Linked DNA regions of Homo sapiens: regions 2, 3 and 4 are each linked to region 1. The links come from fine-mapping of genetic effects on gene expression. A gene starts in region 1. Each other region holds a variant in brackets. All regions are shown on one strand. Distances are between the middles of the regions.

The links. PIP is the estimated chance that this variant, and not a neighbour inherited with it, causes the effect.
Region 2: its variant is the best candidate, but not a certain one, in a credible set for the expression of NTAN1 in whole blood (TOPMed, PIP 0.54).
Region 3: its variant is the best candidate, but not a certain one, in a credible set for the expression of NTAN1 in left ventricle (GTEx, PIP 0.83).
Region 4: its variant is the best candidate, but not a certain one, in a credible set for the expression of NTAN1 in unexposed skin (GTEx, PIP 0.85).

Annotation. Positions count from the first base shown.
Region 1 is chr16:15,051,465-15,059,138 of GRCh38, forward strand. It overlaps NTAN1 (N-terminal asparagine amidase), which reads right to left and starts at 4,610. Exons shown (of 10, transcript NM_173474.4): 1 at 4,427-4,610. The coding sequence starts at 4,507. It also overlaps a transcript of PDXDC1 not described here. RefSeq lists a silencer at 3,981-4,165.
Region 2 is chr16:15,166,100-15,174,573 of GRCh38, forward strand. No RefSeq gene overlaps it. Among named protein-coding and RNA genes, the nearest start is that of MIR3180-4, 15 kb to the left of the region's middle. The variant T/A (reference allele first, on the strand shown) is at 3,577.
Region 3 is chr16:15,072,057-15,080,530 of GRCh38, forward strand. RRN3 (RNA polymerase I transcription factor RRN3) reads right to left here. Exons shown (of 18, transcript NM_018427.5): 9 at 7,942-8,040; 10 at 4,502-4,594; 11 at 2,667-2,805; 12 at 894-1,024. It also overlaps a transcript of PDXDC1 not described here. Among named protein-coding and RNA genes, the nearest start is that of RRN3, 18 kb to the right of the region's middle. The variant C/A (reference allele first, on the strand shown) is at 4,915.
Region 4 is chr16:15,301,321-15,309,794 of GRCh38, forward strand. No RefSeq gene overlaps it. Among named protein-coding and RNA genes, the nearest start is that of NPIPA5, 73 kb to the right of the region's middle. RefSeq lists enhancers at 1,903-2,404, 2,408-2,909. The variant T/C (reference allele first, on the strand shown) is at 4,931.

The sequences.
Region 1 (7,674 bases):
CCTCCCAAGGAGCTGGGAACTACAGGCATGAGCCGACACACCTGGCTAGTTTTTGTACTGTTTGTAGAGATGGGGTCTCCCTGTGTTGCCCAGGCTGGTCTCGAACTCCTGGCCTCAGGTGATCCTCCTGCTTCAGCCTCCTTTGCAGTAGCTGGAACCACAGGCGCACGCCACCACACTTGTGCTAGGATTATAGGCATGAGCCACTGTGCCCAGCCTCTACTTTATTTTTAATTTTTTTTTTTTTTTTTTTAGAGACAAGGCCTCACTCTGTTGCCCAGGCTGAAGTGCTGTGGCCAGATCATAGCTCACTGCAACCTCAAACTCCTGGGCTCAAGCAATCCTCCCACCTCAGCCTCCTTTGCAGTAGCTGGAACCACAGGCGCACGCCACCACACTTGGCTAATTTTTGCTCTTTTAAGTAGTAAAAAGAGTTTAGCCAAACTTCCCTTCTTTGGAAAACCACACAGTCCTACTTTATAAATTCATATGCAAGTAGTCCCAGTTTTCTTAACCTCTAATATGCTCTAGACACTAATATTTGCTTAAAAAAAAAAAAGCTTTTCCCTCAGTCCCTCATCCCTATTTCCCAGTTCCTATTCAATGGCAGTATTCTCTTAACCCAGTGACCAGCAGATTTTCTGAAAAAGGCCAGACAGTAAATATTTGGGGTTCTACAAGGCCGCAGTCTCTGTCACAATTGCTCAACTCTGCTGTTATTATGAAGTGAAAGCAGCCATAGACAATACAGATGTGGCTGTGTTCCAATAAAACTTTATTTATAGGTGACACCGAAGTTTTAATTTCAATACCATTTCCCATGTTACAAAATATTATTTTGATTTTTCTCAACCTTTGAGAAATATAAAGACCATTCTTGGCCTATAGGCTATACATAAGCAGGGTCCGGCCCATGAGCTGTGGCTTGTTGACCTGTGTCTTAGCCAATCACCTAGCTGTGACCTGGGGGATGATCATGTGACCCTCACCCCTGCTGTCCTGTTTATCAATTCTTCCTTTATAAACAGGAGAGGGGCATGAAGGTGATCTGTGAACTGTAAAGCACAATGCTATATAAGAAATTATGAGGCCCAACACACTGGCTCACGCCTGTAATCCCAGCACTTTGGAGGCCGAGGCGAGATGATCGCTTGAGGTCAGGAGTTTCAGACCAGCCTGGCCAACATGTTGAAGCCCCATCTCTACTAAAAATACAAAAATTAGCCGGGCATGGTGGCAGATGTCTGATACTCAGGAGGCTGTGGCAGGAGAATCACTTGAACCTGGGAGGCAGAGGTTGTAGTGAGCCAAGATCGTGCCATTGCACTCCAGCCTGGGTGACAGAGCAAGGCTCTGTCTCTCAAAAAAAAAATAAATAAATAAATAATAAAAGCAGGAACTAAGCTACGCTGCGAGCATCTTGTAGACTCTGTGGAACCGTATTACCCAAGATGTTGCAGGACTGGTTACCGAGTACCCAGTGACTGGTTAAGAGTGACTAAGGGAGGGCTCTAAACAGCTCTGGCCAAAGGAACTTCATGCTGGGATGGCCACCGTCTATATTCACACTGTCTCATTAGTAGCCATGCTGTCTGCTCGGCACTTGAAATGTGGCTACTGCAACTGAGGAACTGAGTTTCAATTTTATCTAATTTTAATTGATTTTTAAGTTAAATCCTAAGTAACCAGATGGCTCGTGGCTACTGTACTGAATAGCGCAGCTCCAGAGTCAAGGGCAGGCTGCCAGGGTTCCAATCCTGGCTTCACCACTCCCAGGATGTGGGGCCTGGGGCCAGTTTCCCAGCCTCTCTGTGCCCCACAGTCCTCATCTGTAAAATGGGAATAGCAGTAACTCTTGCTGTGGTGCTTGGCAGCTTCCACTGTATGACTTATTGTTATTATTTGCTAGTCATAGCTACACACAGGCTTCTAACTGTTGGTACTCCATACTCAGAACACATCGTTACATGAAAAAGACACATTATAAAACAACATATAGTAAGCTATCATTTTTTTAAAAAAAGTAAATTATATACAAAGAAAAACCTTCATTAGGACTTTCACCAAACTAAAGAATGGTTGTAGTCATACTTTTTTTTCTGTATTATTATATTTTGCTTTCCTACAAAGAGGACACCCTGTTTTATTATATAAAAATAATCCAGGCCAGGTGGAGTGGCTCACACCGGTAATCCCAGCACTTTGGGAGGCCGAGACGGGCAGATCACTTGAGGTCAGGAGTTCAAGAACAGCCTGGCCAACATGGTGAAAACCCGTCTCTACTAAAAATAAAAAAATTAGCTGGGTGTGGTGGCATGCACCTGTAATCCCAGCTACTTGGGAGGCTGAGGCAGGAGAATCGCTTGAACCTTGGGAGACAGAGGTTGCAGTGAGCCGAGATTGTGCCACAGCAATCCAGCCTGGGCCACAGAACAAAACTAAGTCTCAAAAAAACCAACCAACCAAACAAACAAACAAAAAACCCAACCTTTAATGTCTCCCTGTTGCTAAGTAGGTGAAAGGTCCATCTAAGCCCCTTGGTCATTTGGTCATCTGGGTACAATCCACCCCTGTAAGGTTACTTTCCATGCTTCCCCTCCTCACCCGGGCTGCTCCGGAGAAACTGGCCAGGACACCCACCCACTGGGCCCTTCCCCTCCTGCCCGCCGCGCCCCAGGCGGCTTGCCCAGCTGCGATGCCCTCACCCTTCTTCTCCTTTTCAAATCTCTCTCGTGCCTGCATCCTTCTTCACTTACACTGCCGCAAATCAAAGTGATCGCCCCCTTCCAAAGTTCCTGTAACACAAACTGGTCCCCAGTACACAGCCTTTCTAGGACATGTCTTCTTAAATAGGCCAAAACCTTCCTTCGAGAGAAGCAGCCCCGGTATGTCACCAAATCTCCCTCCACACTTAAGTGTGCAGCCCGGGACACCCATCTAACTTTCTATCACGGACATTTTCAAACAGACATAAAAGTAGAGCATCCCCTAAATTCTTCAGGCGGCTGAAATTATTTTTCCTTGGTGAGTCCTACTCTTGACTTCGCTAGCTAACAGGACAGTAACACAACGCAAGGATAAAGTGACACGCCACCACGCCTAGCTCGGTGCATGTTGGCTAACAGACGATGGTCGGTCCTGAAATGCAAGCTGAGAATCACACAGAGCTGTCTGCCTTCTCCCCGTCAGTAAGTCCTTGTCACCCTTCAGAACACGTTCAGGGGTCATTTTGTGACCTCATTTATGCAGCAAATCTTTACTGAGCGCCAATTCTATGCCAGGGACCGTCCTACACTCTGAGGATACAAAAGTGAGGACACTACTCTTATCTGCCTTCAGGAGGCTTACATTCTGGCGACAGACCAATAGAGAACAAACAAGCAAACAAAATAATCACAAACTGTACAGCTGTGACAGATGAAACCTCTAAATGCCTTCCCCAACCCAACACACTTGGTCAGGTTCCTGTGCTTCCCATCTCAGAGTGAAAGGGGACGCTTTTTCTTTATGGTACTTAACAGTTTATAGTATCTGAGCCTTCTTCATCAGAAACCATTCTCCCTTCTAGACTATAAACACTCCGAGGGCAGGGACAGTGATCAGTACGTTGCCCAACAGATATTAGGGGCTCGATATTTGACTCTCAAATCAAGGAACTGATTGATTCCCCTTTAACAGGATCTATGGCAAATAGGACGTCTGCCCCCGCCGCCACGCCCCGCTCTTTTTAAAACCTGAGAACCCCCTTGCCAACAGTCCCTGCATAAGCGTGGACAAGAGTTCAGAGATCTATTTGAGCACAAAAGCAGAAAAAACAAAAACAAAACCCGTGCATCAGGGCGTGGTCCTATGGCCCAGCTGCGGAAAGCAGGGCTCTCTCTCCCGGCTAAAAATAACTCGGCGCCCTACGCCCCGGGGGTAGGGGAGAGAGAGGAGGAAGGACTGGGGGTCCCCGCCAAGATCCCCCAGGCCAAACGCTCTCCGAAGCCCACCCTGGAATAACCTCCTGCTTCACGGGGACGCAAGGACGAAGCAACGTTCACCGCAGGCTGCGGGTCCCCGAAGGCGGGCGGCCGGATTTGCCTAAACGGACCCAGCCCTATGGGGGCTGCAGCCGCCCCGTCGGGGAATGGGGGTCCCGGCGTGTCCCCGAGCCGCAGTGCTGTGCGACCTTGGGCAAGTCACCTAACCTCTCTGGGCCCCCGTCCCCTCCCTTGTCAGAGAGTGGCCTCCGGGGCAGCCCGCTGAAGTCTAAAGAAGGCAAAAACTCCCCGACCCCTCAAGGGGAAGACGCGAGCCGACGGCCGGGGCTCCGGATGTGCCAACAGCGCCAAGTTTCAAGTCTGTGTCGCGTGAGGGGGGCGCTAGCCCGCCCTGCAGCTTCCCCTCGGGCCCGCCCCGAAGCCCCGCGCCGCGCCCCACTCACCTCCAAAGGCGGGTGGGCTCGGACGAGGTCCCCGGCTGACTGCGGCAGCCGCACTCGCCGCCCCTCGACGAGCAGCGGCATCGCGGAGGCGGCCGCCCAGGCAGGCCCAGGGAGGCGGCGGCCCCCCGCTTTGCAGCCCCGGGCCGCCCGCCGCCCCCGCCCCTCGGGCCGCGCGTCCCGCCTCGTCCTGCCCCGCCCCACCGCGGGCGCTGCCGGGAAGTGGAGTCCAGGCGGAGGCGGTGCCGGCCGAAGAGACTGGAGAAATCCAGGACATGGCCGCAAGGCCTCACGGGAAATGTAGTCCAAAGCCAGGAAGTGGCCCTGGAAGCAGCGCGCGGCCCGCCTCCTCCGCAAGGGGCGCTGGGAAGTGTAGTCCCAAAAGCGTGGGAGTGAAGGAGCGGGGAAAGGAGAGCTGCCAGGGAGCAGCTGCACCAGCCAAGAGAGCCTCCGGGCGAGTTCCTGGGGCGGGTTCTGGCTCCGACTGCTGCGCTTTAGGTCATTGCTCCACGCTTCCCAGGTGTGTGACCTTCCACAAGCTTGAGTTTGGGACCCTGCTGTGCAGCTCCGTAGGATTGCATTCAATGAGTAATAATAAACCTAATCAGGCGGGCACGGTGGCTCACGCCTGTAATCCCAGCACTTTGGGGGGCCGAGGCAGGAGGATCGCTTGAGGCCAGGAGTTCGAGACCAGCCTGGGCAACATAGTGAGACCCACCCTCCCCCATACCCTCGTCTCTGCCAAAAATTTAAAAATTAACTGGGCACGGTGGCATGCACCTGTGATCCCAGCCACTCTGTAGGCTGAGGCGGGAGGATCTCTTGACCCCAGGAGTGGGAGGCTGCAATGAGCTATGTTTGGGCACTGCAGAGGGACACTCTGTTTCTGAAAATAATAAAAATAAATGTAAACGGTCTTAAACTGAGAAAATAGATCCTGAACTGTGCTAGCCCCACGTACTAAAGAGATCATCGATTAACACGTCGTGATTGGAATGCAATAGGCCACTCACAGGTGGGCTGGGAACCGTGGGGGAAGGATTTGCGGATACTGACTGCAGAGCCCCTAATCTGAGGACAGGTCCCCAAGGTGAGAGGCGTCTCACCGTGGAGCTCTCTTCTAAAACTTGGAAATATTGCTCAAATTCATCCAACTCTGCAGCACATTAACAAAAAGTAATTTTACAAAAGATACAGAGGAGCCACATGATACAGCAGAAACTTTATTAGAATTTTATCATCTGTATTCATCGTCTTCTTTCATAAATCTCCCCCTCAGCTTACACACCCCGTTCAACAAAAATACCAGGAAATTTACTAAAGAAATGACTGTAGAAGATGGTGTTCCCATCGCCAGGTTACCCAACTTCTCACCCAAAATAACTCTATTTCTAGCTACCAGGAAATTATTTCTCTGTATTATTACACCTACATTTCTCATTTGTCCTTACAAATGTAGGAGCTACTATCAACACCTCATTTGTCATTTGTCCTCACAAATGTAGGAGCTACTATCAACACCTCCGTTATAACAGATACAGTAACTTGCTCAAAGTGGTAGAAATAAGTAGTAGAACGAAGACTGAACCTAGCTTTGCATGATTCCAAAGGCAGTGCTCTCCATCACTATAAGATGCTCCTAGACTGTACTGTAAACAACTCATTCTAATGCAGGTGACATTAAGTAAGTCCCAACTAGGAAGCTCGGAGCTAAAAACAGGGTTTGAAACCAGGGTGATCAATGACCAGCAGGCTGGCCTGGAGCAAGTTACTTAACTTCCCTGAACTGGTTTTGTAGAATAGCATGTTTGTTTCACCTGGTACATACTAAACACTAAAGATAGCTATTATTGGAATTGCAGAGCAAAGAGTAGTCAATCAAAGTGAGGCATTTGGAAGTGCAAAGGTGAAGAACAAGGTTCTGTGGGTTCTGCCTGGGGCTGGTGCAGTTTGCCTAACTGGTTTTTCACTTTTGGGTGATCTTTTTTCAAGTAATCTCAGGTTATCAATCTCCTAGGCTGAGTACTGTGTTAAAGGACTAAATGAGCCAGATAACAAGCAGGAAACCACTCCCCTACCTCTCTTCCCACCCAGCTCCACAAATTTTGGTCTACAGGCAATGAGGAAGCAATAGCAGGTGTGTGGCCAGCACTGCGGCTCATGCCTGTAACCCCAGCACTTTGAAAGGCCGAAGGAGGACTCACTTGAGCCCAGAAGTTCGAGACGAGCCTGGACAACACAGGGATCCCTGCTTCTCCAACAAATACAAAAATTAGCTGGGCATGGTGGCAGGCCTGTAGTCCCAGCTACTCGGGAGGATCAATCAAGCCCTAGAGGTCAAGGCTGCAATGAGGCACGACTGTGCCACTGCACTCCTGCCTGGGTGATTACAGCAAGACCGTCTCAAAAAAAAAAGAAAAAGAAAAAGAAAGCACTAATTACAATGTTGGAAAGCCTGTTTCTTTAAGATAGGAAACCAACCTGCCTCACAAGATGGCTGATGGCAAAGTTCAAAGAATATATACAGGGAAATATTTTTTAAATTACACTTTTTTGAGGCCAGACATGGTGGCTCACGCCTGTAATCCCAGCACTTTGGGAGGCCGAGGCGGACAGATTGCTTGAGGTTAGGAGTTCAAGACCAGCCTGGCCAACATAGTGAAACTCCATCTCTACTAAAAATACAAAAATTAGCCAGGCATGGTGGTGCGTACCTGTAGTCCCAGCTACTCAGGAGACTGAGGTGGGCGGATCACTTGAGCCCAGGAGGCGGAGGTTGCAGTTGTTGAGCTGTGATTGCACCACTGCACTCCAGCCTGGGTGACAGAGTGAGACTCTTGTCTCAAAAAAAAGAATGATGAACATTATACAGAACCTTAGTAAATATTTAGTGAAAGGATCCCAATTTGTGTTTCAAATTTTTTAATGTAGAGATGGGGGTCTCACTATGTTGCCCCAGCTGATCTCAAACTCCTGGCTTCAAGAGATCCTTTTGCTGGCCTCCCCAAGTGCTCAGATTACAGGCATGAGCTACCACACCTGGCCCCAAATTATTAGATACATTATAAATCCTACTCAACCATCCAGAGTCAGACTGAAACACACAAAAGCATTTGATGGAAGAAAACATGGTGGAGCTTTGGATGTTCAATTAGTTGAAACAAGAAAAGTATGCAGTTGTACACCAATGAACAGTTCTCAAGGCAGCCTGCACCTTCGAATCACCAGGGGGCTTTAAAAACCATCCATGT
Region 2 (8,474 bases), 120 kb after region 1:
GAAGTGCTAGCAGGTAGATATTTATTAGTCCCCTTTTAGAGATTAAAGCACTGATCTCAAGAGGTGAAATAACTTGTCCAGCTAGCAAATAATGGAGCTGGCATCCTGACCCAGATCTGTCCAGCTGCAAAAATCTTTCCTCTCATGAGTTGTTAGCATTATTCCAAACAAAACACTGCCCTAAAAGTGTGAAAATGTCCTCAGTTCACCCCTTCTCTGCAGTGGGACCCTGACATTTAAAGGCACACCAAGAGGAGACAGTGCTCCCTGCAGGGCTGGAGGGTAATATCTGAGGTCTGGGAGGGACAAAATTCACAACCAAGGGTTACTCCCTCCCACCTGTGCCTGACATTTTTCTTTCTAAAAAATCTGCTCATTTCTGTTCTTCTTTCCTCTTCATCTTCCCCCTCTCCCTTTTCAATATTTTATTTCTTTATCTTATTTGGTGTTTTCATTGCCAAAGTAATTCATGCTTACTATAAAAGCATCAAGCAATAGACAAGTGTATAATAAAAAGCAAGAGGTCCAACCCCCAGGAAACTGCTGGGGACAGTTTGGTACCTATCCTTCCACAGTGTTTACTGTGCGCACATCAGTAAATCAGACTTAATACAATGTTACAAGTTATATAGAAGTGCTGAAATATACACCTAAGAAGCCAGCAGCCTTGGCTATAGTCTCTGGTGCATGCATGTGGCATGATTGTGCATGGTTCTCAGAAACCTTGTTGCTGCTCCTATCATTCCTTCCTCTACCAGTCCACAAATGTCTAACTGCCCACCATGTGCGAGGTGCCATGCTCCGTGCTCAGAACACAGCTGTGAACCAGGTGGACATGGTGCCCTTCCTAGAAACAAAATCTAGGCTGCAAGAATGGTGGCTTTAACTCACTTCAAGAAATGCATTCACCAAGCACCTTCTCTGTGCCAGCTTTTGCAGGGGATGAGGCGATGTCACAGATATATCAGACACAGCACTGCTCTGAAATGCTCATGGAATAATAGAGGAGACAGGCTAGAAAATGAGGTCCATTATTTGTGTTTTAAAATTAGGCCAGGCACACTGTTCACAATAGCAAAGACTTGGAACCAACCCAATACCCATCAATGACAGACTGGATAAAGAAAATGTGGCACATATACACCACAGAATACTATGTAGCCATAAAAAAGGATTAGTTCATGTCCTTTGCAGGGACATGGATGAAGCTGGAAACCATCATTCTCAGCAAACTATCACAAGGACAGAAAACTAGACATTGCATGTTTTCACTCATAAGTGGGAATTGAACAATAAGAACACATGGACACAGGGAGGGGAACATCACATACTGGGGCCTGTCAGGGCGTGGGGGGCTAGGGGAGGGATAGCATTATGAGAAATATCTAATGTAGATGATGGGTTGATGGGTGCAGCAAACCACCATGGCACGTGTACACCTATGTTACAAACCTGCACATTCTGCACATGTACACCAGAACTTAAAGTATAATTTTAAAAATAAATAAATAAGGCCGGGCGTGGTGGCTCAAGCCTTTAATCCCAGCACTTTGGGAGGCTGAGGTGGGCGGATCAAGACCAGCCTGACCAACATGGAGAAATCCCATCTCTACTAAAAATACAAAAAATTAGCCGGATGTGGTGGCACATGCCTGTAATCCCAGCTACTCGGGAGGCTGAGGCAGGAGAATTTCTTGAACTCAGGAGGCGGAGGTTGTGATGAGTTGAGATGACACCATTGCACTCCAGCCTGGGCAACAAAAGCAAAACTCTGCCTCAAAAAAAAAAAATTAAATTAAAAAAACTAATAAAATAAAATAAATAAATAAATAATAAAATAAAATCAGGCCAGCTGCAGTGGAACACTCACGTCTTTAATCCCTTTGCACTGTAACCCCTAAGTACTTTGGTAAGCCAAGGCAGGAGGACCACATGAGGTCAGAAGTTCAAGACCAGCCTCGGCAACATAGAAGTTTAATTTAAAAAAAAAATTAAATTTAAAAATAGCCAGGTACAGTGGTGCACACCTGTAGCCCCAGCTACTCAGGGCTGAGGCAGGAGGATCACTTGAGCCCAGGAGTTTGAGGCTGCAGTGACCTATGATTGGAACCCGGGAGTTTGAGGCTGCAGTGACTGATTATCATGCCACTGCACTCCAACCTGGGTGACACAGCGAGATCCTGTCTCTAAGTAATAATGATGATGATAAATTAAAAAATAATAATTTTTATTATGTTGTTGTTACTAACAAAATTTATTGAGCCCTTCCTAGATGTCATACACTATACTAAGTACTTTACAAGCATTAAGTAATTTCATCCTTTTAAGGACCGTTTGAGGTAACTGTGATGATTATTCCCACCTCATAGATGCAGACACTAAAGCTCAAAGAAGATGAGTGCCTTGCCTGAGGTCTCACGGCTGGTGAATGACCGGGCTGTGACTCAAGCCAAGAGCTGTTTGTCTCCAAGACTCTTAAAGACTCTTTTTTAAAACCAGCATGCTATTCCATTTCATGGTATTCTCTTTTTCTCCCTCATTAGCAGATTCCTACAGAACCCACATGACTCTACTGTTCCTGCCCCAATTTATTTTTGCCTGAGTCTCCCCACTTTGGGCAAAAGCCTCGCTTGAACTATATCGATAGCTACAATGACTGAAAATTGTGTCACGTATCACATAGAATCTCTGTTCCCAAGGTACCCAGAGAGACTGAAATAGGTCCGTTAACAGTCGTGTGTTTTACATTCCACTTGGAGGGTTAACATTCAGGGTCACCCTTCTTCTGAGCCTTAAAAACCAGGGGTATCAAAGTAATGAGGGAGTGCGAGCATTCCATGGAGTTTGGATTAATGATCTGTGAGCCTCTGTTCAGCCCTGAATGCGTGTCATTTTTAGAGTTCAGCCTGGCAAGAAAACTTAACAAGAATCCTGGTCAAAAGAAGTCTCGGTCATTTAATGACAAAGGGTAACTGGACAACCTACCACCAGCAATTTATTTTTAGACCAAGTTAAGTCATACTTCTATGCATGACCTCATTCCCATGACTCTCCTGCCCTGCCCCCAGTTACTGTCCTCAGCTCTATGATGCAAATATTCTGCAGACGTGTCTCTGCCCTGCAAGATTCCCTAGACAGCTTTACCTTGACTACAGATATGTCAATGTCCGCCACCATAGAAAGGTCTTTCTGCAGACCGAACTGAACTGATGCTAGCTTGTTCCATCAGGACCCCTTCTTTCACTGTGCAAACTGTCCCCCAAGCTCCTGTGCTCCAATCAGACAATCAGAACTTTCCATTCATTTCAGCAAAGTTCTATTGAGCTTCCACTCTGGGTTGGGTAGTAGTCTAGGCTGGGGACAGAAAGATGAATGAGACCCATGCCTTATGAGACACATGATACTCACAGTGAGGAGGAGAGAGCAGATGACTTACACTGAAACAAAAACAATAATGTTTCACATCCAATAATATAATAATAAACAAGACACAGAGGAAGGGGTTATTTCTTCTCTTCTGAGAGAATAGGAAACAACAAAGATACATTTCTACAGAGAAGGGCTTTAAAGGATGAA[T/A]AGGAGTTTTCCAGGGAGAAAAGGAGAAAAGGCCATTTCTGGCAGAGCCAACCAAAGCAGAAAATTCTGAAAGTGAATGTTTGACAGGAGCTGCGGAGAGGGAAGAAGAGGGTGACACATAATTCAGTAAAGTGATTGTGTTGAACATGGAACAGCAGAGGGGTGGGAGATGAGCATAAGAAGTTGTGATGGTTCCTTGACACCTTGCTTATTTTTGTAATTTTTTTTTTTTAGATTTTGAAATAATTTGATCCTAACAGGAAAGTTGTAAGCTTGGTATAAAGAGCGCTCATATACAGGCTGGGTGTGGTGGCTCACGCCTGTAGTGCCAGCATTTTGGGAGGCTGAGCTGAGAGCATTGCTTGAGGCCAGGAGGTCGAGACCAGCCTGGGCAACATATCAAGACCCCATCTCTACAAAAATAATAATAATAATGAAAGAATTAGCCAAGCATGGTGGTGCTCACCTGCAGTCCCAGTAACTTGGGAGGCTGAAGTGGGAGGATGGCTTGAGTCCAGGAGGTCGAGGCTGCAGTGAGCTGTGACTGTGCCACTGCACTCCAGCCTGGGCAATAGAGTGAGACACTGTCTTAAAAAAATTCTCATAAACCCGTTTTACCTAGTCTTCCTAAAATCGTCAATATTTTACCACACTTGCTTTATCATCTTTTCTTGATACATACATATTGCATTTGTATTTTTTTATGAATTGTTTAAGAATGAGTTGGGGTCATGATATTCCTTTACCCCTAATCACTTCAGTGTGTATTTCCTAAGACCATGGTCATTTTCTTAGGTAACTACCATATAAAGTCAGGAAATTGACATTGACTTAATACCATTATCTAATCCACAAACCTTATTAATATGTCACCAATTTTCCCAATAATTTCTTTCATAGTAACAAAAAGAAAATGTTGACCACCTGTATTAGTCCATTTTCACACTGCTATAAAGAGCTGCCTGAGACTGGGTGATTTATTAAAAAAAAGAGATTTAATTGGCCCACAGTTCTGCATGGCTGGGGAGTTCTCAGGGAATTTACAATCATGGCCGAAGGGGAAACAGGCATGTCTTACATGGCAGCAGGCAAGAGAGGAGAGCAGGGGAAACAGCCACTTATAAAACCATCGGCTTTCTTGAAAACTCACTCACTATCACAAGAACAGCATGGAGGAAAGAGCCCCCATGATCCAGTCACCTCCCACCAGGTCCTTCCCTTGACATGCGGAGATTACAGTTAGAGATGAGATTTGGGTGGGGACACAGAGTCAAACCTTATCACCACCCTATTTACAATTGGGACTCCAACCCTCTCAACATGCCCTGGGCCCTGGCTCTGCTTTTTCTTTGTAGCATTTTCTGACCTCTAACATGTAGCATTATTCCTATTTCTAAAATGTCTCTCCCTTCCCACCATCCCACTAGAATGTAGATCTATGAGGTCAAGAACTTTTGTCCATTTTGCTCACTGTCATATCAACACCCAGGAGAGTGACTGCCACATGAAAGTTATTAAATAAATAGTCTGAATGACTGAATGGCCAAACCTGGAGGTATCTCTTCCCAACCCCTCTTCCTCTTATTTTTTTAAGCAAAAAACAATAGGCTATTTTTTCATGCCAAGAAAACTGAGCCTCCATGTTAGTGTTTTTCTCCCTTTAAGTTCTTGCTTGGGGTTTTCTTATTTTGCCTCCTGATAGGTACGTAGGGTATATTGCAAAGGAGAAGGTTATCCCCAGAACAGCTAGGGCTTCTTCTAAGAATAGCCCAAGTCAACTGAATCTCCCCTGGGTCTCCTATACAGATGTGAAAGTCCTTGACATGCAATGGTATCTATCCCTCTGCAAACAGAGTGAGCATCTTTAGATCTAATTGAAAGATTAAAAAGAAGATCCCCAGCTGGAAGGTCAATTTATAGATTCCACAGTTAAATCAAGCCACATTCTTAAGCACATGGGACACAAACCTTGCATTAAATCAAAGACTTAATCCAAGTTAAGCCACCCTGGATGAGGAGCTAGAGCTGGAGACATGTAATTAACACCAGCCAGTCAGCACCAACTGCTTCAGCTGACAGGTCCACAGCCTGGAAAACCTTGTTACAATTTCCAGGAGGGCTTTGGGGATGCTTGTTCTCAAGTTCCAGAGACGGTGGGCTTTGCTTCTTTCCATCTGATCTCAACTACTGACCACCAGGCTCCCTGCACTCCAGCCCCACCAACCTCCTTGCCACTTCTCAAACATGTCAAGGACGCTTCCATTTCAAGGTCATTTGCACCTGCTCTCTCCCTGAGCTCCCTCTGGACTTTGCTCAAATGTCACCTCTCTCTCACTCTATTTATTTCTGTAAGCCTCTCTCCTCCTTGTCACCTGCTATTCCCTCCTGCTGTATCCCTTCCCGCCACTCTTATCCCACCTGACACACTGCACATTGTACTTATCCATTTACTCTTTCTTCCCCTGAGAAACCCCATGAAGGCAGGACCTGTGCTTTTTCATTCAATGTTCCCTCACCAATCATCTAGAACAGTATGTAGCATATATCAGGCACTCAGTACCTAACTGCTGAGTTAATTTGTTGGCTAGTTATCTGATTGATTGACTGATTGATTGGGTGGTTAATTAAATGGTTAATTAATTTACCTCCTGAGGCTGGGCCCCCATATGGCCACCTAGCTAAGAAACACCATCAAACCGGGGGTGGGTATTTTGGTTACGAAGGCAAATAAGAGCTACCTAGAAATGCCCTGACGCCAGATGTCTTCAATATTCTGAGACCTGAGTCTCTGTTATAGGTTGGTGTCCTTGGGATAAAGTTCAAGTTCTCTGTCCCTTTGGTTCTTACCTTGAGGAACTCCATCTTCCACCCCTGAACTGCTCATCTACCCTCCAGTGAACTAGAACTTTTGTCAGCTCCTCAAAGTCACCAGGTTCTTGCCACATATGACGTCTCTTCCTAGAACAGTCCTCTCCATCATGCCATAGTCTTCAACTCTGGCCAGCGCCTGCTCCCCAGGTGTCCCCTGTCTGCACTCACCACACTCTTCTTGCAGTGAATCACCAGACTGTGGGTTCCACGAAGCGAGAGCCCTTGCCTTCTTCTTCCCCATGGTATCCCAGTGTCTAGGGCATTGCCAGACTCATGCTTGAATATTTGCTAATTTGGATAGGAGTTATCATCTTATTTCACAGATGGAAGTTATGAACTTTTTACACACCTAATGTACGGGAATTTTCACACTAAACAATCCTCCAATTCTCTGTGGATACCAATTGGGTATTCTATAATTAAATTAAACTTTGGCACTGCCTACCTGGTGTTACCGTCAGACCCTATGAGTGAAGGGTTCCAACCCACAAGAAGGCCCCCAACCTCTGAGGCCAGTTGCAAATCCCAGGTTGCTACCTGTACTCCTAAGCAACCAGCTATAAATCGGGGGTTCCTGCAACCCACTCTCAGGTTTGATAATTTGTTAAAATGACTCCCAGAAATCAGAAAAGTGTTTTAATTACTACTACTGGTTTATTATAAAGGATGAAAGTCAATAACAGCCCAATGGAAGGGAAGCATAGGGGAAGGATGGGAGAAGGGCCCCATGCACACCAGCCTCCCAGCTCCATGCACTCACCAACTCAGAAGCTCTCTGAACCCCATCCTTTAGTATTATGGAGGTTCCACTACATAGGTGTGATTAAACCATTGGCTATTTGGTGATTAGGTCAATGGTTGTTGACTTCAGCCTCTCTCCTCTCCTTGAGGTGGGAAGTAAGATTTGGGGTGGGCAATGAGCCTAATAGCTCCTCCAACCTTTTAATCATGAGGTTGGTTTCTCTATAGCCAGCCCCATCCTGAATCTATCTAGAGCTCACCAAGAGTCCCCTCATTTGCGAAAACTCAGGAATCGTTGAAAGGGACTTGTTATGAACAACAAAAGATGCTCCCCTAAACCCATCATTCAGGAAATTCCAAGGGTTTTAGAAGTTCTGTGTCAGGAACCAGGACAAAGACTAAATATATACTTCTTCCTTCATCGCAGAGGTTAAATATAGTATAGTGGTAAGACCACAGCTTTGAAGACCATGAGTTCAAATCCCAACTCTTCCACGTAATGGCTATGTGACCTTAAACAAGTTATCTCAGCTCTCTAAATCTTTTTCTCATTTATAAAATGACAATCATGGTAAATTTATAATTCATTCAACACCGTTCTCAAGGCTAGGAATATGGCAGTAAACAACAGATTGGCCCAAAGTGATATTCGAGCCAAAACCCAAATGGTGAGAAGAATTTCGCCACCTTGAGCCTAAAAGGAAGAACCTTCAAGGCAGAGGGAATATCATGCCTGAAGGTGTTGAGGCAGGAACAACCTCATAGTGTTCAGGAAAGATAAAAGAAGGCCAGGCCGCCAGGCACGGTGGCTCACACCTTTAATCCCAGCACTTTGGGAGGCCGAGGCAGGTGGATCACCTGAGGTCAGGAGTTCGAGACCAGCCTGACCAATATAAAGAAACCCTGTCTCTATTTAAAAAAATACAAAATCAGCCAGGCATGGTGGCACAGGCCTGTAATCCCAGCTACTCAGGAGGCTAAGGCAGGAGAATCGCTTGAACCCGGGAGGCAGAGGTTGCAGTGAGCTGAGATCGCGCCATTGCACTTCAGCCTGGGCAACAAGAGCAAAACTCTGTCTCAAAAAAAAAAGAAGAAGAAGGCCAGTGGTGCCTCTGGCATCCCCAAAAGCAAGCCTCCAATACCACAAAGGTACACAGGGCCACTTTCCCTGCACCTCTCGGCTCCTGATCTACCCAACTCCAGACCCCAAGGTTCACCTCTAGCTCTGAAAAGGAGCACAGCTTCTCCAGCCACATCTGCCTCATTTTGCCTCAACTGCAATTGGA
Region 3 (8,474 bases), 21 kb after region 1:
ACAGACACAGCTTCTCACCAAAGGGTGTAACTTCCAACTTCTCCTAAATAGCGCTGTTCTAAAGCTAGGCACACCCATGTGGGCAGACTGAATTCAACCTTCTTTCCCATGACCAACACTCTCCTGATCTCTAGGAAGCCACAAAATCGTTGCAGAGAAGGAAAAGCCTTCTACATTCTTTCCCCCACCAAAAAAAAAAAAAAAAGAAGAAGAAGAAGAAAAGACAAAGCCTAAAGTTTTTAAAATTCTAGATTAATAAGTTGGTTTGGGCTAGTTACAACTCAACCCTTGGAAAGAATAAAGGAAATACAGTTAATTACCCCATATGAGATTTTAATAGAGAAAGGCTTAAGGGAAGAGCACCACCTAGTGACCAAAAGGCAGGATGACATTTTCGGAGCACCTAGCTGGGCTGGCAGGCAGCAATCTGTTTTCTCTCCAAGTGTACTGAGAAGGGAACGTGGGCCAGGCACAGTTGTTCACACCTGTAATCCCAACGCTTTGCGGGGCAGGAGGCGGGCAGATCACTTGTGGTCAGGAGTTCAAGACCAGTATGGCCAACGTGGCGAAACCCCACCTCTTCTAAAAATACAAAAATTAGCCAGGCATGGTAACCTGTGGTCCCAGCTATCGAGAGGGTAAGGACTGAGAGTCCGTTGAGCCCAAGAGGTGGAGGTTGCAGCAGTGGGCAGCAGAGCGAGACTGTGTCTCAAAAAAGAAAGGAAAAGAAAACAAAAAAAGAAAGGAGAATGCGATTTTATTAAGCAGACTAGCAAGTAAGCTCAAAGAAAAGAATTATTTACTTCATGGTCTCCGTCCACCCCAGTTTTTAGGGAAAATTTTTGGGCAAAAACAAAGTAAGCTAAGATAATGTTAATCACATTCTTACTCACCAATTTGAAACTACAGAGGTAAAACATGAAAAACTGTACATGGCAGGAGGCATGGGTGGGCAACAGGAGTTTGTCAAAGATGTTTATCAGGTCGCGATATAGATCCTTTGTTTTGCCGTTATCAACCTTACCTATGGAGAAAATCTGGCATCTCAGTTTTTATAAAGACATATTTTCAAGTTTCATCTGCCATATTTTTTATAAACACAACACCATTAAAAAACAACATTATCCAGCCAAGCACAGTGGCTCCTGCCTGCAATCCCAGCACTTTGGGAGGCCAAAGTGAGAGGGAGCCCGGGAGTTCAAGGGCAGCCTGGGGAACACAGGGAAGCTCTGTCTCTACAAAAAATCAAAAAATTAGCCAGGCATGGTGGCACGCCTGTGATCCCAGCTACATGGGAGGCTGAGGCGGATGAACCGCTTGAGCCCAGGAGGTCAAGGCTGCAGTAAGCCATGTTTGTGCGACTGCATTCCAGCCTGGGTTAGAGTAAGACCGTGGCTATTTAAAAAAAAAAGAAAGACAGACATTATCCATTAAAATACCATTAAAACAAAATGCTACTTTTAGTTTACACAGATTTTCCTCTGAATATAATAATCTAACACCTGCAAGGAAGCAGGCCCTCACCTCACACACTGTGGCAAGGTCAGAAATGCAAACCCTTCTGAAGAGCAATTCTATCATTCGTGTAGCAAAAGACCTCTAATCCGATCATTTTACTGTTAGTAAACAGCTGAATATATAGGCACAAGTATGTTCATTATAACTGTTACTTATCATGGTGAAAACAGTAAAAGACAGTTAAACCCATGTGACCAACAACATTTATTATTACGACTTTTTTTTTTAGAGATGGGGTCTTGTTATGTTGCCCAGGATAGTTAGTCTTGAACTCCTGGCCTCAGTGATCCTCCCACCTTGGCCTAAGTGCTGGGATTCAATAACAATTATTTTAAAACAGGCAATGATATGAGAAAATGTTTATCTTCAGCATCCATGTAAAGGGCAGATTATGAAACACTTGTGTTTAGTGTGACACCCAAATTCACTAAAAAATACTCTCCTACATATACAGACGCTAACAGAAAAGGGAAAAAAGTCAAACTTCAAAATGCTCACAATGGTTCTCTGAAGAGTAGAAATGTGGCCATTTAAATTGTTTTTATCCTTTCCTGTAGTTTCCAAATTCTCTAATCAACATGTATTATTTTTATAACAGCAAGACCGTTAAAACAGTAATGCAGTCAACTCAGATTCCAGTTCTATTATTCTGACTCACTGAGCTCATCTTAAATCTTAGCAATGTGAATGGAAAAAAATTCTGTTTTCGCCTGGCAAAGCCTTTAAAGTTCCATGAAGTCAAGAAGCACATATAGTACTAACACTGGCACAACAATGGTGCCAGGCAAAGACCCTCTAAACTCAATACATAACGGAGCACCATATATTAGTGCACCCTACATCATTCTTCAGTGCATTCAGCAACTTGAGCGTAATTTGATCTAAAACTGGCCAAACTCCATATATAATCTTTCAATACAACAATCAGTGAAAAGACAGAAGACAAATATAACTCAGCCAGAATCCCAGTCCCATTTTCAAGCTATGTGACTGGCAAGTAACTTGACCTCTTTAAATCATCTTAAACTCATACTCAATAGATATTTTTACAGGATTTTTAGTATTACTAGAGATAATGGATGGAAAATGCCCAGCACAAAGCCAGGTACACTGCAGGTGTTCAATAAACAGTAGCTACTGTGATTTACCATCTACATAGCAGACATCCTTCATGTAGGACAAAACCAAAGACATCAGGATGTCCAGGCGCTCGGCTACAGGATGCACCATCTGGTCGAGCCGTTCAGGACCAGCCTTTGTTTCATGTTCAGTTTCTTCATCTTCATCCTTTGAAGACAAAAAGTAAATACTAACATTAAAAAATTCAATGTCAAAGTGGTTTAGTAGGAAAACTGTCATAAGTGATTATTTCCCTTAAAAGATAAAACAAAGAGGCTGGGGAAAGCGGCTCACATCTATAAGCCCAGCACTTTGGGAAGCAGAGGTGGGGGGATCACTTGAGGTCAGGAGTTTGAGACCAGCCTGGCCAACATGGTAAAACTCTGTCTCTACTAAAAATACAAGAATTAGCCAGGTATGGTGGTGCACGCCTGTAATTCCAGTTACTCAGGAGGCAGAGGCAGGAAAATAGCTTGAACTGGGAGGTGGAGGAGGCTACAGTGAGCCGAGTTCGTGTGCTCCAGCCTGGGCAACAGAGGAAGACTCTGTGCCCCACCAAAAAAAAAAAAAAAAAACTAAACTAAAACAAAGAAATGGACCACGCACAGTGGCTCACGCCTATAATTACCAACACTTTGGGAGGCCAAGGCAGGAGGATCACTTGAGCTCAGGAACTTGAGACCAGCCTGGGCAACACAGTGAGACCTGTCTCTACAAAAATAGAAAAAAAGTAGCTGGGTGCGGTGGTACACTGTAGTCCCAGCTACTCGGGGAGGCTGAGGTGGGCAGATCACTTGGGCCCAGGAGGTCGAGGCTGGAGTGGGCCAAGATCACACACTGCCACACTCCAGCCTGGGCAACAGAGTGAGACCCTGTCTCAAATTAAAAAAGAAAGAAAAGAAAGAAAGAAATGCAGACACCTTTCCAGGCAGGGGTCTCATTCAGGGATGTGAATCAGAACCACCAGTGAAATTTAAAATAAAAGCCAAGACTCACAGCACCAGCTTCTGATTCTCATTGAGAAGACCCAATGAGACCTATCCATGCAAAAATCACAGATGCCCCCTACCTCTGCTCCTGGTGCCCACCATGGCGGGTGCTTTTGGTGCCGGGCCCCCTTTTGCAGGTCGGGATATCCACCTCCCCACTGCTGTGAGTACTGGCGGCCAATAGCTCACAGCCGCCTACTTTCTCCAGAGCTGCCCTGAGCAGAAAGGAGCCAGGACCACCCTTGCACTCTTTCCAGCCCCTCCCCCTTAGAACCAATGACTGATTGACAAGGCATCAGAAAAGGACATCTCCTTGGTCTCAAGCTGGGAACAAACTCTGTAGACCAATCCATGCCCCAGAATGCCTGGTGGGAGCAGGCTGTAGCGACCTCCCAAGTGAGACCCGGCCCCCGTTTAGCTCCCCTGCCCTCTTCTGCTCCCTGACACCCTCTGTCCCAAGGGCACCTGAATCCCTGTCTCAGACTCTCCTTCCACTGAACCCAACTTCAGATACCACCCAAAAGAAGTAATGCTATAAAGTGTACAAGTGGTAAAATGCAGAAATTAAACAGGTATGCTTTTCTATTAACCACGCCCTCACAGACAGCATCTGGCTTACAAAAACAAACACTGAAAGTTACAAGAACAAAAGTGAAACATACTTCACCAAACCCAAATTCAAAGCCTTGGAAATAGACCAACTATGCTAAGTGCTAAATGACATGGCAGCAAATTACTCATATAAGGAATCGTTTTCAAGTTTGCTGAACTATTTTAATTCTTTCAATCTAAAGCCTTAACAAAGATGAGCAGCACTAGCTGTTTCCACCCTTTATGATAAACTTCATCTCCACTTTCATTAATAAACTGCTAACCATATTAAACAATCCTTCCGTGGAATCTGTCCCACCACAAGTTTGAGTTGCTGTTTCTTCAGCATCTTCAATACCCTGCCGGGATGCATTCACCTATAACAAAGGGAGAAAAAAAAAGAATAAAAGGATTTAAAAAATACAACTATGTTATTTTGGGATGGAAATTCATCTGATATACGCATGTTCAAGGTGTCCAGATTAGTGCCTTATATCACACCCCAACACAATACACAATTATGGTGCAAGCCTGTAAACTGACCTAGGTCATGAAGGAATTTAAATATAATAAACCAAGCCCCTTTTACTACATACTTATATAAAATCGACAACTATCACATGATGCTCTATGCCAGGCAGCCTCAACAAATTCAACATTTATTCTAGCTCTGATATGGTCTGGCTCTGTGTCCCCA[C/A]CCAAATCACTTTTTTTTTTTTTTTTGAGGCAGAGTTTTGCTCTTGTTGCCCAGGCTGGAATACAATGGCAAGATCTCGGCTCACCGCAAACTCCGCCCCCCAGGTTCAAGAGATTCTCCTGCCTCAGCCTCCCGAGTAGCTGGGATTACAGTCATGTGCCACTGTGCCCAGCTAATTTTGTATTTTTAGTAGAGATGGGGTTACTCCATGTTAGTCAGGCTGGTCTCGAACTCCTGACCTCAGGTGATCCACCGGCCTCAGCTTCCCAAAGTGCTGGAATTACAGGCATGAGCCACCGCGCCTGGCCCCAAATCTCATCTTGAATCGTACTCCTCCTGTAAGTCACACATGTTGCTGGGGGGGGACTGGTGGGAGATAATTTGAATCATAGGGTAGGTTTCCCCCATACTGTTCTCGTGATAGTGAATAAGTCTCAAGAGATCTGATGGTTTTATCAGGGGTTTCCACTTTTACATCTTCCTCATTTTCTCTTGCCGCCACCATGTAAGAAGTGCCTTTCACCTCCCGCCATGATTCTGAGGCCTCCCCAGCCATGTGGAACTGTAAGTCCAATTAAACCTCTTTTTTGGCCAGGTGCAGTGGCTCACGCCTGTAATCCGAGCTCTTTGGGAGGCCGAGGTGGACGGATCATGAGGTCAGGAGATTGAGACCATCCTGGCTAACACGGTGAAACCCCATCTCTACTAAAAATACAAAAAATTAGCCGGGCATGGTGGCATGTGCCTGTAATCCCAGCTAATCAGGAGGCTGAGGCAGGAGAACTGCTTGAACCCCGGAGGTGGAGGTTGCAGTGAGCCGAGATCGCACCACTGCACTCCAGCCTGGGCAAGAAGCGAGACACCATCTCAAACAAACAAACAAAAACATCTCTTTTTCTTCCCAGGCTCAGCTATGTCTTTATCAGCAGTGTGAAAATGGACTAATACAATCTCTATGCACAAGACACTCACAGACACATTGTGTAATAAACATATCGTCAATCAACTGAGCAGAAAAATGATGAACTGCCAGCCAAATGTGCATGATGCAATATTTATTTTGGTATATCACCATTCAAATATCTTAACATACCACTCAAACCATGCCATTTTTTATTATCTATGCTTGACCTTCTTTGTAAACATTCTAAAATGTTCCTTAAGTATATACCAGAGAAAGACTATAAAGAGTACATATACAGTTGGCCAGAGAGGTGCAACTCCAAGTGAGCACTGCACCAGTGAGCCCAAGCTCCAGCTCTTCTGAGACCTTGTTCCATCTTCCTGCTTTCCTATAGCATCAATGTTTTCCTCCACCAAAGCTCCTCTCCCCTCAGTCCACAAACCTGCTCACGTCTCTCCACTCCTAAACCACGCCTCTTAGCCCTGCTCCATCCCCTCCTTCCACCACAACCCTGCACCAAGGTCTCTAACAGCCCCAATTCTGCTTCCCCACCATCCACATCCTCTCCCGAAATGCAGTTTCTGCGTCTTCACTGACATGGTCCTCCAGAAAGCAACAAAGACTACCTTCTAACCACTAAATCCAAGGACTGTTGCTCTTTTCATCTTTCTAAAAAATGACAGCAGTATCTGATGCTGCTGACCAAACTCCTCCTTCCGGCGGATCCTTCCTGAGCATCCAGGCTCTTGGTTTTCCCCATACTTCTGATCACCCTTCTCCTCCCCTGTCCTAAACTGCATCTTTCCAAAGGTTTATGCTCAGGTCCCCATCTGCAGCCACGACTGCCTGTGAGTATTCTCTGGTAGGCTGCCCACCAGCAACTGAACCTGGCCAAGATGGAACTACTCTTCCAACTGCCTCCTCTTCGTATTTTTTTCTTTTTTTTTTTTTTTTTGAGACAGAGTCTTGCTCTGTCACCCAGGCTGGAGCGGAGTGGCGCAATCTCGGCTCACTGCAAGCTCCACCTCCCGGATTCACACCATTCTCCTGCCTCAGCCTCCCGAGTAGCTGGGACTATAGGTGCCCACCACCATACCCGGCCAATTTTTTGTATTTTTAGTGAGACAGAGTTTCACCATGTTAGCCAGGATGGTCTCGATCTCCTGACCTCGTGATCCGCCCGCCTCGGCCTCCCAAAGTGCTGGGATTACATGCGTGAGCCACCACGCCCGGCCTCCTCTTCATATTTCTAACTACCATTAATGGCAACACCAAGATTCAATTCCACAGGGAGCAAAGTTGAAGGATTCCTTTCCCTTACTGTCTGCCTCCCCTCCTCCAAACCAGTCTCAAGCACCAGTTCATCTTTCCTGACAATGTCACTAGAATCTACTACTTCCTTTCATTCCCACTGCACCTTAGTGCGGGCCTCCTTAAACAAAGTTTTAACTGTTTATAATTATAATCTGCCCTTAAGAAAGGCCAAACAGGAAAAATCACTTCCGTAAGAATCCCTTCCTGACCCCACTGTGATTCTATCAGGTTCTCTAACTCATAATGTATGTTTCATTCATAGCATTTTCCACAACCATACTTTTACATTTGGATAACTATGTATTTAACGCCTTGTTCTCCAATCATGAGAAGGAACTGTCTACAACTCCCAGCACATGCACACATTCAAAGAAAGGAAGCAAAGAATGGTGCTAGTGGTTTCTTTTCTTTTTTTTTTTTTTGAGATGGAGTCTCGCTCTGTCGCCCAGGCTGGAGTGCAGTGGCACGATCTCAGCTCACTGCAAGATCTGCCTCCCGGATTCAAGCAATTCTCCCACCTCAGCCTCCTGAGTAGCTGGGATTACAGGCACCCACCATCATGCCTGGCTAATTTTTTATTTGTATTTTTATAGAGACGGGGTTTCGCCATGTTGGCCAGGCTGGTCTCGAACTCCTGACCTCAGGTGATCTGCCTGCCTCGGCCTCCCAAAGTGCTGGGAATACAGGCGTGAGTCACCACGCCTGGCCAAGTGGATTCTTTTCTATCACTGACTATTGTTTCCACATACTGTGATTATAACAAATTCAAGTCAGTAAATGAAAATAAAAATAGATTACTCAATACTTACATCCAACTTGAGTAGTTTTTCAATAATAAGCTCCAGAATTTCATGCCTCAAGGTTGGAAAATATACACTAATCCTTAGTAAGTTATGAACGTAACATTCCTAAAGGAGAAAATGTAAGATAAAACATTTCAACAGAGAATAAACGTTTCACAGTTATGTAAGCAAAACATCAATTACATGACCTTTAGTTTCAAATATTTAAAAAGAAAAAAACAGACTATCCAGCAATACAAAAACTATACTGTTTCTACATGTATTATGTTCGGTATAATCATTTCAATTATTCCCAGTAAATGAAATTTTTAATTTGCATAACTATAGGTTTTTAAGTAGCTGTATTGATAAAACTCATATATCATACAATCACCAACTTAAAGTATACAATTTAAGTTTTTAATATATTCAGTTATGAGACCATCAACATAATCAATTTCAGAACATTTATTTTTCTTTTAGAGACAGGGTCTTGCTCTCTCTCTCAGGATGGCGTACAGTGGTGCAATCATAGCTCACTGCAACCCTGAATTCCCAGG
Region 4 (8,474 bases), 250 kb after region 1:
TTTGAAGTCTTATTTTACCTTAGGTATTTGTGAACTCTGCGTTCTATTTTGTGCCACATGTGTTTTAAGTTACTATTACTCTACTAAAGTTTATTCATCCTCCAGGAAGATGATGATGTTTGTACTGTAGTTTTTTATGTCCCAGGGATACAGCAGGGTTCCCCAAGGGTATCTGTTGGCCTAGTTTGAGACTCTTGGCTCTGTTAGTGGGAGTCTCAAACTATGCTCCAGGCTGCTGATTGTTCTGAGGGATTTCTCTTTCTTTCTAACACTAAGAAATAGGAAACACAGTTTTCAGTTTAAAAATAACATAATTACAAAGTGTAGAAAAGTCTCTCTTGGCCGGGCACGGTGGCTCATGCCTGTAATACCAGCACTTTGGAAGGCCGAGGCGGGTGGATCACGAGGTTAGGAGTTTGAGACCAGCCTCGCCAACATGGCAAAATCCCATCTCTACTAAAAATACAAAAATTAGCTGGGTGTGGAGGCAGGCAGCTGTAATCCCAGCTACTCGGGAGGCTGAGGCAGGAGAATCCCTTGAACCCAGGAGGTGGAGGTTGCAGTGAGCTGAGAATGCACTACTGCACTCCAGCCTGGGCGACAGAGCGAGACTGTCTCAAAAAAAAAAAAAAAAATTACAGGCAAAAGAGGTTGCCCATGTTCTCATCATTGGCAGCAGCAGCATCAAAATATGGCACCCACTCCAGTGATGCCTTTCCAGAAGGAGCAACACTCATGTGAAACCACCAGCTTTGCTTTGTTTTTGTTTTTGTTGTTGTTGTTTTTTCAGAGAGAGTCTCACTCTGTTGCTCAGGCTGGAGTGCAGTGGTGGGATCATAGCTCACTGCAGCCTTGAACTCCTGGGCTCAAGCGATCCTCCTACTTCAGCCTCCCCAGTAGCTGTGGCTACAGGTGCACACCAGCACGCCTTGCTAATTCAAAAAAAGAAAAAAAAGAAAAGAATTGTAGAGATGGGGTCTCGCTATATTGCCCAGGCTGGTCTCAAACTTCTGACCTCAATTGATCCTCCTGCCTTGGCCTCCCAAAGTGGCAGGATTACAGGCATAATCCAGCCATTGTCCCTGGCCTGGCTTTTTTTTTTTTTTTTTTTTTAATGTAGCTCATGACCACAAACGGAGTTTGGTTTCCTTGCTCTCTCTTTTTCCCATTTGGTACTTTTCTTTCTCTCCCATGCACTCCTCTTCAAACCAAAAGTGAATCTTGTTATTTCTTGAAAAATGTGTAGATGTTGAAGGGATGAAAAACCTGAACTCTAACGTCTGACTATCTGAACCCAAATTCTAGCCGCCCCACTCAGTTGCTGTGTGACCGTGAGTAAGTTCTTACCCTCTCTGAGCCTGTTTCTTCACTTGGAAAATAAAAGTATACACATATACAGCTGTTAGCCAGAACTCAGCCTAGGGTAACCTTTCAATAAATATTAGCATCATCAAGGAAATCGCTTGACAAATTAATTTTCATTAAGCAATGAGGGTCTATAACAGTGATGACTTCTGACCAACCAACCAGCCCAATGGCTGACAAAGGACTGATAACACTTTACATTTTTATAATTTCCCTAGATTTCAAATTCTCCATAAGGAGCAAGTACAGTTTTTATAATCAGACATAGAACTCGCGTTCACTCTGCTCATCCTGACCCTAGCCACTGGCCACCAATTTCTGGGTTGGCTGCTCCAACCTGAGAACACAGCTACTGGAATCAGAGGCAGAGGAGCTCCTCTTGCGTTCGTTGTTGGTTTCCCTTGGTTTTGTAAAAATAAATAAATAATAAAATAGGGATACACCCTTCAGACAGCAGGTAACTTCCTAAGCTAAGATGAACAGGAGGAAATTTAAATGTCTTTCCCCGGTTCAAATCCCCTACCCTCTCCCATCTGCCTACCCTGGGCTCCAACACTCGGGAGAAAGACCATAAGTCGTTCAGATGATGCTTTGGAGCTGGACAATCAATCGTGATCAAAAACAGGGGCATGGGAGCCTGGCTAACGTGGAGGGATGGGAGAAAATCAGGCTGAATTAGAGAAGGGTACATTGTGGAGTGTGTTTTACAACGCCATTAGTTCTAAGCACATAAGGATTTCAAATCAAGGAGCATCCACACACACACAAACTCTTGGATTCCTTAAGAGATAAGGCGGATCCAAAATTAGCATATAGATCAGAGGCATGCAGTTGAGTGCTGCTAAAGTGGGCTATAAATGCTTGGGGGAAAATAGTTGTTTTTCTGAAGAAACTTTACAACATTCCAAAATCTTGTCCAGGAAGTGTGAACTCTAAGTCCAATGGACTGAACTGTGTCCCCTCAAAATTGATATGTTGAAGCCTTAACTTCCATTATGATGGTATTAGGAGGTGGGCTTTTTTGGAAGACTATTAGTTTAGATGAGATCATGAGGATGAGGTCTTCGTGATGGAATTAGCATCCTTACAAGAAAAGACACCAGACGGCTTGCTCTCTTGCTCTGTCTCTCCTCTTCCCTCCCTCCCTCTCTACCTCCGCTCCCCCCACCCCCCACTTCCTCCGTCATGTGAGAATGCAGAGAGAAAGCAGCTTTCTGCAAGCCAGGAGGAGGGTCCGCTGGGAGCTACATCAGCCAGATTGTGGCACTTCTCAGCCTCCAAAACTGTGAGAAATAGATTTCTGTTGCTTAAGCCATCCAGTTTATACTATTTTGTTATTTGCAGCCTGATATGGTTCGGATTTGTGTCCCCACCCAAATCTCGTGTCGAATCGTAATCCCCAGTGTTGGAGGAGGGGCCTGGGGGAAGGGGATTGGATCACGGGGACAGACTTGCCCCTTGCTGTTCTCATGACAGTGAGTGAGTTCTCACAAGATCTGGTTGTTTAAAAGTGTGTAGCACTTTCCCCTTTGCTCTCTTCCTCCTACTCCAGCCATGTAGGACATGCCAGCTTCCCTTTCACCTTCTGCCATGATTGTAAGTTTCCTGAGGCTTCCTCAGCTATGCTTCCTGTACAGCCTGCAAAACTGTGAGCCAATTAAACCTCTTTTCTTTATAAATTACCCAGTCTCAGGTATTTCTTTATAACAATGCAAGAAGAGACTAATACACAGCCCAAACTAACTAAGACAAACCCACTCTGACCCATTCTGACACCCAAACTAACTAAGTCCTGGTTTGAACCCTTCACTATTGTGTCACCTTGGGGCAAGTCACCCAACTTCTCCAAATGTTTGTTTCCCACCAGGAAGATGGAAATGACAGTACCTCTCCTTCCTACCCCGCAAACCTATCAGGAGGATCGAAAGGGACATGGCAAGCAAATACTTTCTAAACTGTAAAGTGCTGTGCAAATGCAAGACAGCATTACTCTCTTTTTATGGAGTTATTTATACTCTACCTGGTTACAGCAGAGGATTTATGGTAGATGTCAGTAAGACTCTTTATTTTGAATTTTAAGAGAGAAATAAGAATCTTTGTTATCTGTAGAGAAACAAATATAATTTCCATGGGGCACTAATATAATATAATATAATATAATATAATATAATATAATATAATATAATATAATATAAATATACCTTACCGAATAAACCCTTTGCTCAGACGTAGTGAAAAGGTAAATTCCCCTTCAACCTAATGAAGTTTCAGTCGCTCACATTTTCTGAATTTGCCGAACAGAAATGCGATCAGGTGCCTACTAAGTGCAGTACCCAGCACGATGTCTAACATTGAAACATACAGTGTATACACCAGCACCTCCACCAAACCCATATCCAGCATGCAAAACATACCCTTTTCAAGTCGGAAGCACATAGATAGATTTTTTGGAGTTCAAAAGGTCTTAATGCAAACTGGCTCCAATTCCTTTTTTTTTTTTTTTTTTAAATCTTTGAAACATTGGTTAAGTCTTCTCAGAGCTATCATTTTGCACACATGGAAACTTTAGACCATCCATCCTTCAAGTGTCTTGGGGTAATTAGAGATACTGAAGGTTAAGGACCTAGCATACTACTAATAGATTTTCAACAAATGGTAGCTACTGTTATTTCTCATCATTGCAGATTTAAGAGTGCCAATTCTCAGAGCACTTCAGATAAAAACCCTACCTTTCTTAAGGCAAAAAACAACGGCATTAACTTTTTTTTTTAATTAACCTAAGTTCCCATTATGTTTAGAGAAGAGATCACAATGATAAATGCTTGCCCTGTCTCTCTTTTTTAAAAATTTACTGTTCTTACATGTGACATATACTGTGGTACTTAGTGTCACCCTACAAAGAATAAATTTAAATTGAAGAAACAGAAACACGGGAGAGTCCTTGTTTGGGTTTAATTTGTATCTGACTACAATAAAATTCTATCCTGGAAGCTAGAGTCATAAAACTAAAAGTCAGGAAGGAAAAGAATGGCTAATTAAGCTCCAAAACTAAAAGCTCTTTCTTTATTGCTATTTCTTTAAGTCCTAACAATTGGTCAGGCACAGGGTCTTAGCTGTGCCATTCTAGTTAATGGTCGGTTACAAATTTCCACCATAAACTCATCTTCCTTCTAGCAACTTAAATCTCAGGCACTGGGATGTAATAAGGAGAGAAAGCTCTTAGGCCCAGGGCAATCTCTCTCTCAATCCCAATCTCCCTTCCCCCCATCCCTATCCCACCACAGTAACTGTTAGTAAGAGCTTTTGGTTGCATGCCCAGAAATCTAACTCTGGCTAAATTAATCAAGAAACGAATATACTGGTTTACCCAGCTGAGGTCATTTACGGAAAGGGAATGCTAAGGTTTGAATGTGTCTCCTCCAAAATTCATGTTGAAACTTAATCCTTATTGCAGTGGTATTAAGAGGTGGGGCCTTTTAGGAAGTGATTCAGTCAGGAGGGCTTGGCCCTTAAGGAATGAATTCATGCCTTATAAAGGGGTAGAGGGAACTAACTTAGGCCCTTT[T/C]GCCCTTCCACCTTCCACATATGAGGATACAGCATTCATGCCCTCCAGAGGACACAAGGCACCACCTTAGAAGTAAGGAACAGAGCCCCTTACCAGACACAAAATGTGCCTGTGCCTTGATCCTGGACTCCTCAGCCTCCAGAACGGTGAGAAATAAGTTTCTGTCCTTTATAAGTTATCTAGTCTTGGGTATTTTGTTACAGCAGCAAAAACAGACTAAGACAGGAAGAGAAAAGAACCAGAGCCCCAGGGACTAGAAACAGGACTCACTGCCTCAAAGTACATGTATACTCTCTCTCTCTCTCTCTCTCGCTCTCTCTCTCTCTCTCTCTCTCTCTCTCTGTCTCCATTTCTCTTCACTGTTTGTCTTTGCTCAGCCTTATTCTCCATCTCTCTCCATGTGGGAGGGCAAGTAGAGGCTGGCACCTCCAGATATATATCCTCTCTGTTCAAGAACCACAATAAGTTAATCCCCAGGGAAGATTCTGATGCCTGTGCCACTCCAAGGTCCAACACTGCTGGGTGGATAGAGCCTGATGTTTGACCAGATATGTGCCACTTACCAACCATAGCAGACACTGGCAATGGCCACCCATGTCCCTTGGACCCTCCCCATCCCATACAAGCTGAAGGCCTCCCTCTGCAAGCACCTGCAACTCCCCACCTGAAGGCCTTTTCTCGGCCTCGGCAAGACAGGCCAGAAGTTCAAGGATGTCAAAGTCCCTGAGAGAATCCCTTGGTCAATGTCAGATGAGTGATGAAAGATAAATATCTCAGTTTTCTCAACACTCAGGTGGGACACTTTGAGGTGTGTTCCATGCCATCAACCAAAGCCCATCAAAAGGACCAAGCCCCGGCTGCCCATAGAAGTAACTTACTCATTACCTTGCTCTATTCTGGTTTAGATTTCCTTGTCTCATTTTGCCCTGTGATGGTTAATTTTATGTGTCAACCTGACTGGGACGCTGAGTGCCCAGATAATTGGTAAAACATTATTCTGGGTGTTCCCGTGAAGGTGTTTTCAGACGAGATTAACATTTAAATCGGTAGACGGAGGAAAGCAGGTTGCACTCCAGATGTGCGTGGTCCTCATCCAATCAGTTGAAGGTCTAAATAGAACAAAAGGCCAACCCTTGCCTGAGTCAGAGAGATCTCCTCCTGCCTGAGGGCCTTCAAACTGAAACGTCAAAATTTTCCTGCCTTTAGACTCAAACTGAAACACGGCTCTTTCTGGATCTCAAGCCTGCTGGTTTTCAGACTGGAACTACACCACTGGGTCTCCTGGGTCTCCAGCTTACTGACTCATTCTGCAGATCTTAGGACTTGTCAGCCTCCATAATTGCATACACACACACACATACACACACACACACACATATATATAAAAGTGCATATAGATACATATATGTATGTGAATGTATGTATATAAAAGTGCATATAGATACATATATGTATGTGTATATATATATACACACATACACACACATATATGTGTGTGTGTGTGTGTGTGTACATATACATGTGTGTATATACACACACACACACACACACACACACACACATATATATATATATATATATATGGACCATAGAGAAGTCTCTAAGCCAAAGCTGGGGACAGGGGAATCCTGTGTCTCCTTGGGAGAGGTCTGCTTTAGTGTCCCTGCCATGCTCAGTCATTAGCCAGGAGCACCTCATGGAAGGAAGCATATGGATTCCCCATATGCTTATATATGTGTGTGTGTGTGTGTGTGTGTATATGTATATGCATATGTGTGTGTGTATGTGTGTGTGCTATTCTATTGGTTCTACTTCTCTAAAGAACCCTGACTAATACACTCCCATTCTCCTACTGGTGCTTCCCAGAGTCACCCTACAAATAAACCATTACATGGAAATCCTCATCACAGGATCTGCCTCTGGGAAAACCCAGCCTAAGACATCCATGACTTTCATAGGAGAAGAAAGAGCTCTAGAATTGGCAGCCTTACTGAACCATGTGGAAGAGGAAAGGAGAGCACCTAAACAAAAGGGTATTAACCAATTAAAATAACCTAAACCCACACTTGTCCAAATTGCTGAGCAAGTGGGATGGGATGAAACAACTTTCAACCAGTGTCCAAATATTGCTGTGACTCCTAGACTGGCTTGACACAAAGGCAGTGTCCACCAGCTCTAAACATCCATCTCAACTAAGATTTCTCCAGGAAGGCTAGAACTGACACCCTCTGCTTAGGTTCTCAGTGACTTCACCCAGCCAGCAAAGGAGCTCTTAGGAAGGCAGACAAGCCCTGAAGTCTGTCTGCTCAGACTCCAGCTACCTGCTCTATTCCTGCTTTATCAACCTCTAGCTTAGTCGCTCAATCTCCAGCTTTGCTCCTTCCCATTAGATTCTATGGCTGAACCTGACTGCCATAGTTTGTTTCTCAGATGAATTTAAGGCAAGGGTTGCAAACTTAAATGCACACATGGGCAGACAAGTAACACAAATGAGTGAAGAGTACAGATTAGGGCAACTGGGTCTGGTGGAGACTGTGGCAAACTAGAGAGCACACACCCTATCTAAGGAGGCAGCGAGGACTCAATTTTGCAAGATTTGTGGAATGGACTCCCAATGTTGCCAAACTGCCACTATTTTTTAAAGAGAAGCAGGAAATCCAGGGGTTTTTAAAGATGTAAAATACACAGTTTGTTGAATGCTGGCGACTGATTTTTTTTTTTTTTTTTTTGAGACAAGAGTCTCACTCTGTTGCCCAGGCTGGAGTGCAGTGGCATGATCTCAGCTCACTGCAGCCTCCTCCTCCCACATTCAAGAAATTCTCCTGCCTCAGCCTCCTAAGTAGCTGGGATTACAGGGGTGCACCACCATACCCAGCTAATTTTTGTATTTTTAGTAGAGATGAGGTTTCCCCCTTGTTGGCCACGCTGGTCTCCAGCTCCTAATCTCAAGTGATCTGCCTGCCTTGGCCTCCCAGAATGCTGGGGTTACAGGTGTGAGCCACAGCACCCAGCCCTGATTTTTTTTAATGTAAATACTGTATGAACCCAGACAAATGTTCTGCCAGGCCAGTGCTGCATGGCTCACCACGTGGTGGCCCTGAGAATGGGCCTCATCGACCTGCCTCTACTGGGAGTGTAATTAACCAGGGCCCCAGCTGCTGCGCTGGGGAATCCATATGCTTCCTTCCATGAGGTGCTCCTGGCTAATGACTGAGCATGGCAGGGACACTAAAGCAGACCCCTCCCCGGGAGACACAGGATTCCCCTGTCCCCGGCTTTGGCTTAGGGACTTCCCTATGGTGTTCGCACCCTAACTTTTTTCTCCTCTCTCTTTTACTCAGAGTCAGACTTGCATTACTGTCTCAGGTTCTCCCAGCTTTATGTGGCACCTTCTTTGCTTTCTCTCAAGGGCATTTCCCTTAATAAAAATCACATATGTGTAATCCTGTATGGGAGTTTGTTTCTCAGAACTGGGCTGACACACCATCTTGCAAACTCTGCTTTCGGCATTCAGCTCACACTTACTTACACCCTCCAAACTCCA